3 linked regions of the Homo sapiens genome follow. The protein of the gene in region 3 purifies or fractionates together with the protein of the main gene of each other region. This does not show direct contact. Each region holds a gene or a part of one and is shown on either strand. Other genes may lie near its edges.

What was found.
Region 1: the proteins of TSPAN16 (region 3) and ABCA7 purify together in Homo sapiens (affinity purification with mass spectrometry; one large-scale study listed by BioGRID and IntAct). This does not show direct contact.
Region 2: the proteins of TSPAN16 (region 3) and SERPINE2 purify together in Homo sapiens (affinity purification with mass spectrometry; one large-scale study listed by BioGRID and IntAct). This does not show direct contact.

Annotation. Positions count from the first base shown.
Region 1 is NC_000019.10:1,057,088-1,060,736, reverse strand, and holds part of ABCA7 (phospholipid-transporting ATPase ABCA7), read right to left. Parts: intron 3,424-3,649; coding exon 3,308-3,423; intron 2,872-3,307; coding exon of another isoform or gene 2,823-2,871; coding exon 2,678-2,822; intron 2,592-2,677; coding exon 2,468-2,591; intron 2,120-2,467; coding exon 1,990-2,119; intron 1,918-1,989; coding exon 1,797-1,917; intron 1,715-1,796; coding exon 1,652-1,714; intron 1-1,651. UniProt on the Homo sapiens protein: Catalyzes the translocation of specific phospholipids from the cytoplasmic to the extracellular/lumenal leaflet of membrane coupled to the hydrolysis of ATP. Transports preferentially phosphatidylserine over phosphatidylcholine.
Region 2 is NC_000002.12:224,001,236-224,004,884, forward strand, and holds part of SERPINE2 (glia-derived nexin isoform b precursor), read right to left. Parts: intron 688-3,649; coding exon of another isoform or gene 666-687; coding exon 407-665; intron 1-406. UniProt on the Homo sapiens protein: Serine protease inhibitor with activity toward thrombin, trypsin, and urokinase. Promotes neurite extension by inhibiting thrombin. Binds heparin.
Region 3 is NC_000019.10:11,294,575-11,298,323, forward strand, and holds the start of TSPAN16 (tetraspanin-16), read left to right. Parts: upstream 1-1,585; 5' UTR 1,586-1,723; coding exon 1,724-1,792; intron 1,793-1,928; exon of another isoform or gene 1,929-2,022; intron 2,023-3,567; coding exon 3,568-3,749.

The sequences.
Region 1 (3,649 bases), about 10 Mb from region 3:
ATCAGCCTGACCAACATTGTGAAACCCCATCTCTACTAAAAATACAAAAATTAGCCGGTTGTGGTGGCGGGCGCCTGTAATCCCAGCTACTCAGGAGGCTGAGGCAGGAGAATCGCCTGAACCTGGGAGGCAGAGGTTGCAGTGAGCCGAGATCGTGACACTGCACTCCAGCCTGGGTGGCAGAGCGAGACTTTGTCTCAAAAAAAAAAAAAAAGAAAAAAACAAAGGCCGGGCATGGTGGCTCACACATGTGATCCCAGAACTTTCGGAGGCCAAGGTGGGTGGATCATTTGAGGTCAGGAGTGCAAGACCAGCCTGGCCAACATGGTGAAACCCCGTCTCTACTAAAAATACAAAATCAGCTGGGCATGGCGGCATGTGCCTGTGGTCCCAGCTACTCGGGAGGCTGAGGCTGGAGAATCGCTTGAACCTGGGAGGCGGAGGTTACCGTGAGCCAAGATTACACCATTGCACACCAAGCTGGGTGACAGTGAGACTCCATCTCAAAAGAAAAAAAAAGAAAAAAAAATATATATATATACTGCAATGTGTGCTAACAAACAGCACTTGTTTGCAGATGTGTACCAGCCCTAGTAGGTGGCCAATAAGTGGCACACAGCAAATACATTTGTATATAGTAGGTGCTTGAATGTGAACTGGTACAAAGCAGGTGCCTGATAAATGCTGGCTGTGAGCAAGTGCTTGATGTAGATGTGTATACAATAGGGGTCCAATAAATTCTATTGGTATTTGATAAACGTTGATGGACACAAAAGTATTCAGTACACCTCTTTAGTGAGCACAGTGTGTGTTTAACAGAGGTAAGCATGCAGTAGGTGCTTAATGAGGTTTTGTTGGCTCAAGATAAATGCACAGGCCAGACGCAGTGGCTCACGCCTGTAATCCCAGCACTTTGGGAGGCTGAGGCGGGTGGATCATGAGGTCAGGAGATCGAGACCATCCTGGCTAATATGGTGAAGCCCTGTCTCTACTAAAAATACAAAAATTAGCCAGGCGTGATGGCAGGCGCCTGCAGTCCCAGCTACCTGGGAGGCTGAGGCAGGAAAATGGTGTGAACCCGGGAGGTGGAGCTTGTAGTGAGCCGAGATCTCACCACTGCACTCCAGCCTGGGCGACAGAGTGAGACTCCGTCTCTAAAAAAAGATAAAATAGGGCAGGTGTGGTGGCTCACGCTTGTAATCCCAGCACTCTGGGAGGCTGAGGCGGGTGGATCACGAGGTCAGGAGATGGAGACCATCCTGGCTAACACGGTGAAACCCCGTCTCTGCTAAAAATACAAAAAAATTAGCCGGGCGTGGTGGTGGGCGCCTGCAGTCCCAGCTACTCGGGAGGCTGAGGCAGGAGAATGGCATGAACCCGGGAGGTGGAGCTTGCAGTGAGCTGAGATCCCACCACTGCACTCCAGCCTGGGAGACAGAGTGAGACTCCATCTCAAATAAATAAATAAATAAATAAATAAATAAATAATAATATAATAAAATAAAAATAGGAGCACAAATATTGGCATACAGTAGGTGCCCAATAAAAGGTGGTGGATACACAGTAGGTGTTCAGTAAAGGATGATGGGCAGGGCATGCAGTAGGGCAGCCACTCACTGTCCCTGCACCTGGCCTCCACCCCTGGACTCACCTCACCAGGGGGAATCCCCAGGCACAAGCGGTCAACAGCTGGCATCCTCTGCCCACGGTATACCTGGGAGAGTGCAGGTCTTTCAGAAAGGTGAGTGGGCCAGTGGGAGCACCCCCCACCCAGCAGTCGACCTGACCACACCTACCTTGGTCAAGTTCCTCAGCACCAACACATCCCCCTGGGTGGCTCCTTGGACCACCCGCTCCCGTTCACGGGCTACATCCTCGTCCTCCTCTCCCAGGAGTGGCAGAGACCTCACCCTGGGCCTGGGGACAGAATATCTGTGGGCTTAAAGTAGGTCCTTGGCCCCTGCCACCCTCTCCATAGACCTCACTAACTGTGGCAGGAGTTGGCTTCGGTGCTGCAGCAGTAGTGTGAAGAGAAGGAAGAGGGGCCCCTGTATCACCATGGCCAAGAGGTTCTTGCCGACCACCTCCCAGCGCAGGGGTGACTGGAACTGCCTGTCTCCTGTGGATATAGAAAGGAGGGACTGGGTCCATGAGAGTCTTGGTTTCTGGCCCTTTCTCCATCCATGTCACTCTGGATTCTTAAGGGAAAGGAACACAAATTGGATAGGCCACTCAGCTGGAGTCTAATTGGCATAGAAAACAGAAGAGGCCTCTTGTGATGTAATCTAAGAATTAGCTTTTTATGGCTGCTTTCTTGTACCTCCAACTTGGCCCAACCTTAGGGCCACCTAAGAACCCTGGCTGTCTCCCTGGGGGGCTGTTTTTCTCCACTCTGTATAATTAACTCTAGGTCTCCAAGGGTGCTAGCTATCTGTAGCCATGGCCCCACCTGACAGGAAGTTCTCACCCAAGCGCTCAAAGGCATCAGCCATGGCCTGGTTCCGCACCATGTCAATGAGCCCCCGGCCCAAGCAGAAGTGGGGGAAGATAAGGAAGACCTGTTTCAAGATCCGGCTCACCTCCTGCAGCTTCTGCTCAAGGGTGGGAGACGGATGTTGGTCAGGGGCTGAGTCCAACGACCCAACCCAGCCCAAGCCCCAGCCTCGTGGTGCCCCACCTGATCAGAGAAGAGCTCAAGCACAAAGGTGGCCATGCTTCCATTGATGCCAATAAAGAGGTTTATGCAGGTGAGCACCACATAGGCTGTGCTGGGCACGGAGAAGAAGAAGGAGGCTGGGTACATGAGCGGTGTGATCGACCAGCTGAAGGGACAATAGGAGTCACTGGAGTAACCACTCAGACTGAGAAGCCCTGAGAGGAATAAAAATCTCCATTCCCATCTTCTCTGCCTTAGACCTTGACATTTTCACCCAAAGCACATTTCTGTTTTTTTTTTTTTCTTTCTCTCTTTCTCTTTCTCTCTCTTTCTTTCTTTTTTAGAGGTGGGTCTCTCTATGTTTCCCAGGCTGGTCTCAAACTCCTGGCCACAAGCAGTCCTCCTGCCTCGGCCTCCCAAAGTACTGGAATTACAGGCATGGGCTGCCTTAGAACTCTACTAATATGAGTCAGGATAAGATGAGCTTTTAAGGCCACCTTGGCACACCACTGAATTGGATCACACACGGCATCACCTCAGACCTCCATATCCTCTCCTTGGGAGTCACTGCAGAGTTCTATCTCAGCAGCATTAATGTGGAAGGCAGTAAGGGGTCAGTAAGAATAGGCCCTGAGGGACTGGGGGCCTCACCCATACAGTAGTAGCAACAGCAGGAGAGCAGGCAGGTTGGCAGGGGCCACATATGCCCTCTGCTGGAAGGCCAGAAAGATGAGCACCACGATGCATGCTGGCACCAAGTAGTTACACTGCATTGGAGATGGCAGTTACCTTTATCAGCCTAAAGAGGTGGGCACTGCCACCCTCAGCCCTGTTCCCACCCTGACCTCCTTGCTTTTTGAGTAGGAAGGCACAAAGTCTCCCACAATCCTCAAGACTTTACCCAGGCCATCTTGGACAAGCCCCTGCCTACAAGGGGCCAGACAGGGCAGTGGCAAGCAGTGGCTGGGCCCCCACCCGTCCAAGCAGCCCCCG
Region 2 (3,649 bases), on a different chromosome or scaffold from region 3:
TACGAGGCCCCTGGGCCCTCCACAGCCACCCCTTCCCAGCTCCTCTCACAGGCTTCACAAGCACATCTACGATCACAGCGCAACTCAACCCTGGGCGCCATGGAGGCGGTAAGCCAGGAAGTGTCCCCCTCGCTGGAACGAGGGCTGGAGCCCTGGGAAAGGAGACCTAGTGGCAGACCCCAAGCTCCAAAAGTACAAAAAAGGGACCAGAGTCTAGTTCTCCTAACTGCCAGCACCACAGTGTTTGTTCTTTAGAAGAGACTGACCCCAAGCCCCAAGTGGCACCAGCAAATCCCCTTCTGGCTGCTCTGCTTCTTGGGGTTGTCAGCAAAAACCAAGCCATAAACCCTCCTGTCACAAGACTCTCAGGCAAAGGCTCCGCCAGTGAGCAATTGTGCACACGCACCATTTACGCCGTATCTCATCACCATGGCGAGCTGCTTCTTGGTCCTGCCGTCCGCCCCCAGCTGAAGCATCCCCAGGACCGACGCAATCCCATGGGGAGAGATCACGATGTTGTCATGAGGCCTCGACTTCACAATCTGATTGAAAACCTGGATCCCCGTGTTGGAGCCTAGTTCCTCGAGAGACAGAGGATTGAAGTGGGAGCAGATGGAAGGCAGCGTCACAGAGGCCAAGAGGAAGAGGGGGAGATGCCAGTTCATGGTTCCTTCCACCAAGGACGACCTGGAAAAGTAAGTTAAAAAATATTTAAATTATACTTAAATGGGTACTTTACTACTTTTTTTTTTTTTCCCCCAGATAGAGACTCGTTCTTTCACCCAGGCTGGAGTGAAGTGGTGCCATCTCAGCTCACTGCAACCTCCGCCTCCTGGGTTCAAGCAATTCTCCTGCCTCAGCCCCCTGAGTAGCTGGAATTACAGGCGTGTACCACCATACACGGCTAATTTTTGTATTTTTAGTAGAGATGGGATTTCACCATGTTGGCCAGGCTGGTCTCAAACTCCTGACCTCAAGTGATCTGCCTGACTCAGCCTCCCAAAGTGCTGGGATTACAGGTGTGAGCCACTGTACCTGGCCTGCGAGGCCATTTTGTACTCACCTAGTATGCTTGACTGTACTCAGCATAATTGAATGCCATGTGAATATATTTAAGACAGAACAGTGTAATTAAATCAGTTTTCAAAACACACCCTGGGGAGGTGGGGAGGGAAAGGAAGCAAACTTCCATCTCTTGGGTCCTTACAATGTGCCAGGTCCTATACTAATCATTATTTAATTCTCGGTTATTTTATTTTTATTTATTTATTTATTTTGAAACAGTCTCACTCTGCTGCCCAGGCTGGAGTGCAGTGGCGCAATCTCGGCTCACTGCAACCTCCGCCTCCCGGGTTCAAGTGATTCTCACGTCTCAGCTTCCTGAATATGTGGGATTACAAGTGTGCGCCAACTCGTCTGGCAATTTTTTTTTTTTTTTTTTTTTTAGTAGAGATGAGGTTTCACTGTGTTTGCCAGGCTGGTCTCGAATGTCTGGCCTCAAGTGATCCGGCCTCCCAAAATGCTGGGATTACAGGCGTGAGCCACCATGCTCAGCCTAATCATTATTTAATTCTCATAAGTGCCCTTCATCCAATTAAGCCAATATTTACTGAGGGTTCACTGGGTGTCGGACCCTTTTCTAAGTGTTAGGCATATGACATAACTGAATGGACAAGACTCTCACCCGCACTGAGCTTACAATCTAGAAGGGAGACAGAAAATAAGCCAGCAAGCAATAAAGCATTTTCAGAAAAGGATAAAGAGCACAATGATAAAATACAGGGATGCGAGCAGATGAGGGGCCGGCAGGGTGCGGGGGGTGGTCATTAGATAGGGTGATCAGGGAGCCATCTCTATGGCAGGAACATCGTGATGAGACCTGAATGGGGGAAGGAGCCAGCCACACTCTGATGGGTAAACAGTACGCTGGGCAGAGGGAGAGCAGGGCCGAGGCCCTGACGTGGGAATAAACTTGGTGTATTAGAGGCCAGTGTGGATGTGAAATCAAGGTCGTAAAGAAGGGAGACAGGTGGGTGAAGCCGAAGGAGAGTTCAGATCTGGTAAGGTCCTGTAGAGCCTGGAAAGGCACTGGGATTTCACTCCAAGGGTTACAAGAAACCCCTGGAGGATTTCAAACAAGGGAGTGAATCCCTCGGGTTGCTCTGATTATCTTATAACCACAAGCGCTTGATTCTTTTACCATAAGCACACTGCTTTTAAAATTAAAGAATTATTAATTAAAATAAACTTAAGTGACTGCTTTAAAGTTACAATAGGGTAGGACAATTGGTAAATTCATCAATTTTGAGGATGGTGTTGCTTACACGGATGTTCTCAACTACAGTGATTTGTTTTAAAGAAGCTTCCTTCCTTAATTACCACTCACAGAGCTTTCTCTGGCTATGACAAGTAAGAGGTAGGAAATTTACATGTATTTATGGAAAAGCAAATACTTTCATTAAGTAAGAACTTAACAGTGGCAGCTGGTAAAACAAAAGCAGCATTCGTGATGTTGCTAATTCAGTTCTTCCCCAAGAGGCCCAAGCTCCTGCTAAGCACAGTCTCCCGTGGAGCCAATGTGTCCCACTCTGTTGTTACGTGTGGGAGGTTAGGGGTGACTGCAGAGAATAAAACAGAAGGGGGCCTTTTAAGAGACAGGTGACCTGGAGGGAGGGGGAAATCATGTCTCTGTGTGCTCTGGGGGAAAGCATGGGCACAACCACAGTGTTAGGCAAAACTGGCCCCGTATTTGGTGTCTCCTTGCCTTCCTTTCTACACACTTTCTGTGCTTCCCACCCTAGGGCGTAGGAGATGTTCAATAAACACTTGTGAGATTAATCCGATGGCTCATAAATACTTCCTATTTTTATTAATTAATCTTTCCCTGCATCACAACAGCGTTTATGGAGTGTGGCTAAGAAAACGCTTGTGTTTAATCCTGATCCTCACGGTCAGCTCAAGACACTCTCTGAGGGAAGAGCCACCATCACATCGAGCAAGGACTGTGGGCACACGCAGAACTCCCTGCCTGGCCCCCCGACACAGAGGGCCCCACTGTGAACCACTGAGGCCATCCTTCCAGCTGATGTTGCAAGTTTCTTATATGTTGTGAAACAAGCGCTTTTCTAAAGATTTAGAATGTTCCGTGTTTCTCCAGAGCTTCATTGTAAAACAATTGTATCAACTCAGCCCGTCTAAATTCAAAACATGTAAGTGACCTACATACGCTGCTCCCGCTTGGGCTCAACGGGCCAGCGTGGCCTATTTTGACTTTGGCACCTAGGACTGGCTCTAATGCCACGACAATCCCTGGAGTTTCCTGGAGCCTACTGGACTTTGGAGAGCGTCCAAATCATGACCGTGGAAGCTTTATTCATTCCATCTAAAAACTAGAAACTGTGTTCTCCCCTTCCTTCCTCCCTCTTGCCTTTTCTTTCTTTTGAGCAATAAATATCCTCTTTAAAATTTAATATAGCACAAAGTCATCATAAGTATAAAACATTGTGTACAATCTTTCTTACAAATGGCCAAATGCAGTGACCAACTTCATCCATCTCAATTGTTGTCTCTTGCATTATAGTCTATTCTGGTGTCTACATTCGGCCCACTATAATCTGTACTCCTGAAGCCTCCCCAAAGAAATGCTCCT
Region 3 (3,749 bases):
TTTTGTATTTTTAGTAGAGACAGGGTTTCACTGCATTAGCCAGGATGGTCTCGATCTCCTGACCTCGTGATCTACCCACCTCGGCCTCCCAAAGTGCTGGGATTACTGGCGTGAGCCACCGCGCCTGGCTTCAAATGACCTCTTAAATAAAGGTGTGGAAGGACACACTCCTGGCTGTGAACAGCACCCGTGGTCCAGGAGGAGACAGCACTCCTCTGTGAACATCTTGCTTAGTTCTACATGTTCCAAGAAGCAGGCGATTTGACAGACATTCATTAAATTAATTAAAGTGTAAGGTATTTTCTCCCATTTGAACCATCCGCCTTCCCCCAATCCATGCAGGACCTGGACCCAGACACACCCCAGCCCAGGGCTGGACAGAGAGGGGATCGGGGTGGGGCAATGTGAAGCTGCTATGGTTAGGGTGGGGAGGTATGGGGGCAAAGTGGGCTACAGACTGCAGGATCTAGGCCTGGAGGTCTTCAGTGCTGACATACAGAAGGTTTTTGGTCCTGAAATGCTAACTACATCTATCACCATGGAGAAAAGCCCAATGACCTGCTACTTGGGAGGCTAAGGTGGGAGGATCACTTGAGCCAGGGAGGTCGTGGCTGCAGTAAGCCATGATCACACCACTGCACTCCAGCCTGGGCAATGGAGCAAGATCCTGTCTCAAAAGAAAAAAACCCAGTGACCAATGGCTCACAGTTCCAGGACTCTCTGCCTTACAGGTTCCTGCCCTCATGTTACTCTTGGGGCTTCAAAGCCTGGTCTTGCTTCCTGTGTGGCCTCAGGCAGTTCCCTTGGCCTCTCTGAGCCCTGTATGAAGGATGGGCCAAGTATGGGCTTGGGCTTGGGAGGCCCGGTGGCTTGTAGCTAGATTTCTGCATCACAGAGCCTCTGGATCCATTCATTCATTCTCCGCGGGTTTCTTAAGTACTGCAGTGCCAGGCTTTGGGGACACAGCTGTTTTTGTTTTTGTTTTGTTTTGTTTGAGACAGAGTCTCACTCCGTCAACCAGGCTGGAGTGGAATGGCACGACCTCAGATCACTGCAACCTCCACCTCCTGGGTTCAAGTGATTCTCCTGCCCCAGCCTCCCAAGTAGCTGGGATTATAGGCGTGTGCCACCACACCCAGGTAATTTTTGTATTGTTTGTATTGTTAGTAGGTCTCAAACTCCTGACCTCAGGTGATTCGCCCGTCTCCGCCTCCCAACATGCTTTGACTACAGGTGTGAGCCACTGCGCCTGGCAGGGGTCACAGCTGTTAATAGGACAGCCCAAGTTCCCCCCTCCCCCGCTTGGATCCCCCAGTCTACTAGGAGATGTCAACTGTGCAAGTGGTTAGCTCTGGGCACTATGCCCACAGGGTCCTGGTGGCATCTGGAGGGTACCAGGGTAGCATACCATGCCTGTTCTCTTTCCCTGCTGTGACCTGTTTGAAGGATGAGGAGCCAACAGGGGGCAGTTTGGGGCACCTGATTTCCCTGGACCATGAGCCTTGCTCCAGAACCCAATTGTGATGTGATAAAAGGCTTATGACCAGGGCAGGGGGCAGCTGCTGGGCCGCCTTGGACAACCATCAGGCAGCCAGGACACAGAGGGGCAGAGCAAGTCAGCATTGGCGCCCCTTCCTCAGATCCCTATCATCTTGGGAAACAGTAGCCCAGAGGTTCAGGAAGATGTTAACTTAAATGTTCAGGGTGCCCCAGTCTGTTCAGCATGGCTGAAATCCACACTCCGTATTCTTCCTTGAAGAAACTGTTATCTTTACTCAATGGCTTCGTGGCTGTAAGTATGTCACAATCCAGGCCCCTGGTTTGTTGCAGCCCTTCCTCCACAGTCAGCTCCCTGAAAGACAGAAATAAGTTGATCCAAATTGGCATCGAGATCTGTGGTTCCCTGGAGAAGCAGGAGGGATGTAGGGCAGACGGAGGAGGAGGAGCAGGGAGCGTGGGGACCTCCATCAACCGAGAGCTGGTGAAATCCAGCACAGATGAGTGTGATCTGGGGGAGCCCAGGTGGGTGATGGAAGAGCTTGGCTCTAAGTCAAATCCTGTAGCCGACCAAGTTGTTTGGGAAGGCCAGGAGAAAGGGTTATTTTCTTGATCTTTTAAATTTGTCACATTTTTTTCCTTACCGTAAAAGTAACCCGAAATGTACATTGCTAAGGAATTGTCAGGCCGGGGGCGCTGGCTCATGCCTGTAATCCCAACGCTTTGGGAGGCCAAGGCGGGTGGATCACGAGGTCAGGAGTTCAAGACCAGCCTTGGTCAATATGGGGAAACCCCATCTCTACTAAAAATACAAAAAAATTAGATGGGCGTGGTGGCACGTGCCTATAATCCCAGCTACTCAGGAGGCTGAGGCATGTGAATTGCTTGAACCTGGGCGGCAGAGGTTGGCAGTGAGCCGAGATTGTGTCACTGCACTCCAGCCTGGGCAACATAGCGAGACTCTGTCTCAATAAAAAAATAAAAGAATAAAAACATAAAAAGAAGTAATTGTCTTCATTGTAGCATAGTCTAAGGAAAAGCTGCCAGGAAAGAGAAGGAAATGAAATATCACTCCTCCTCTTCACTTGTAACATTTTAAAGAGAATTAAGGCCGGCTGTGGTGACTCATGCCTGTAATCCCAGCACTTTGGGAGGCCGAGGTGGGCAGATCCATTGAGCCAGGAGCTCGAGACCAGCTATAGTGAGATCCCCATCTCTATTTAAAAAATAATAATACAAAATAAAGTGTTATTGGAACATGGCCGTGCTCACTTATTTGGAGATTGTGAACAGCTGCTTTTGGGCTACACCAATAGAACTGCGTAGTTTCAACAGACACCTTAAGTCCTGCAGAGGCCACAACATCTGGGTTTTTCAGAAAAAAAAAATTGCTAATCCCTGTCCTATGACATTATTTTATTTTATTTTATTTTATTTTATTTTGAGACGGAGTCTTGCTCTGTCACCCAGGCTGGAGTGCAGTGGCATGATCTCAGCTCACTGCAACCTCCACCTCCCAGGTTTAAGCGATTCTTCTGCCTCAGCCTCCTGAGTAGCTGGGATTACAGGTGCCCACCACCACGCCCGGCCAATTTTTGTATTTTTAGTAGAGACAGGGTTTCGCCATGTTGGCCAGGCTGGTCTCGAACTCCTGACCTCAGGTGATCCACCTGCTTCGGCCTCCCAAAGTGCTGGGATTACAGGTGTGAGCCACTGTGGCTGGCCTATTTTATTTTTTGAGACAAGGTCTTGATCTGTCATCCAGGCTGGAGTACAGTGGCACAGTCATAGCTCACTGCAGTCTCAACCTCATGAGCTAAAGTGATCCTCCCACTGCAGACACCTGAGTAGCTGAGACTACAGGCACGCACTACTACTGGCTATTTTTTTTTTGTTGGGGAGAGGGTACAGATGAGGTCTTACCAAGCTGGTCTTGAACTCCTGGGCTCAAGTCTTGGCCTTGGCCTCCCAAAGTGCTGGGATTACAGGCATGAGCCACCGCACTCACCCAGTTCTATTTGTATACAACTAACAGATTACTTTTCTTCCTTTCTGGTTTCTGTTCTAAAGGTGTCTGGCATCATCCTAGTTGGCCTGGGCATTGGTGGTAAATGTGGAGGGGCCTCTCTGACGAATGTCCTCGGGCTGTCCTCCGCATACCTCCTTCACGTTGGCAACCTGTGCCTGGTGATGGGATGCATCACGGTACTGCTTGGCTGTGCCGGGTGGTATGGAGCGACTAAAGAGAGCAG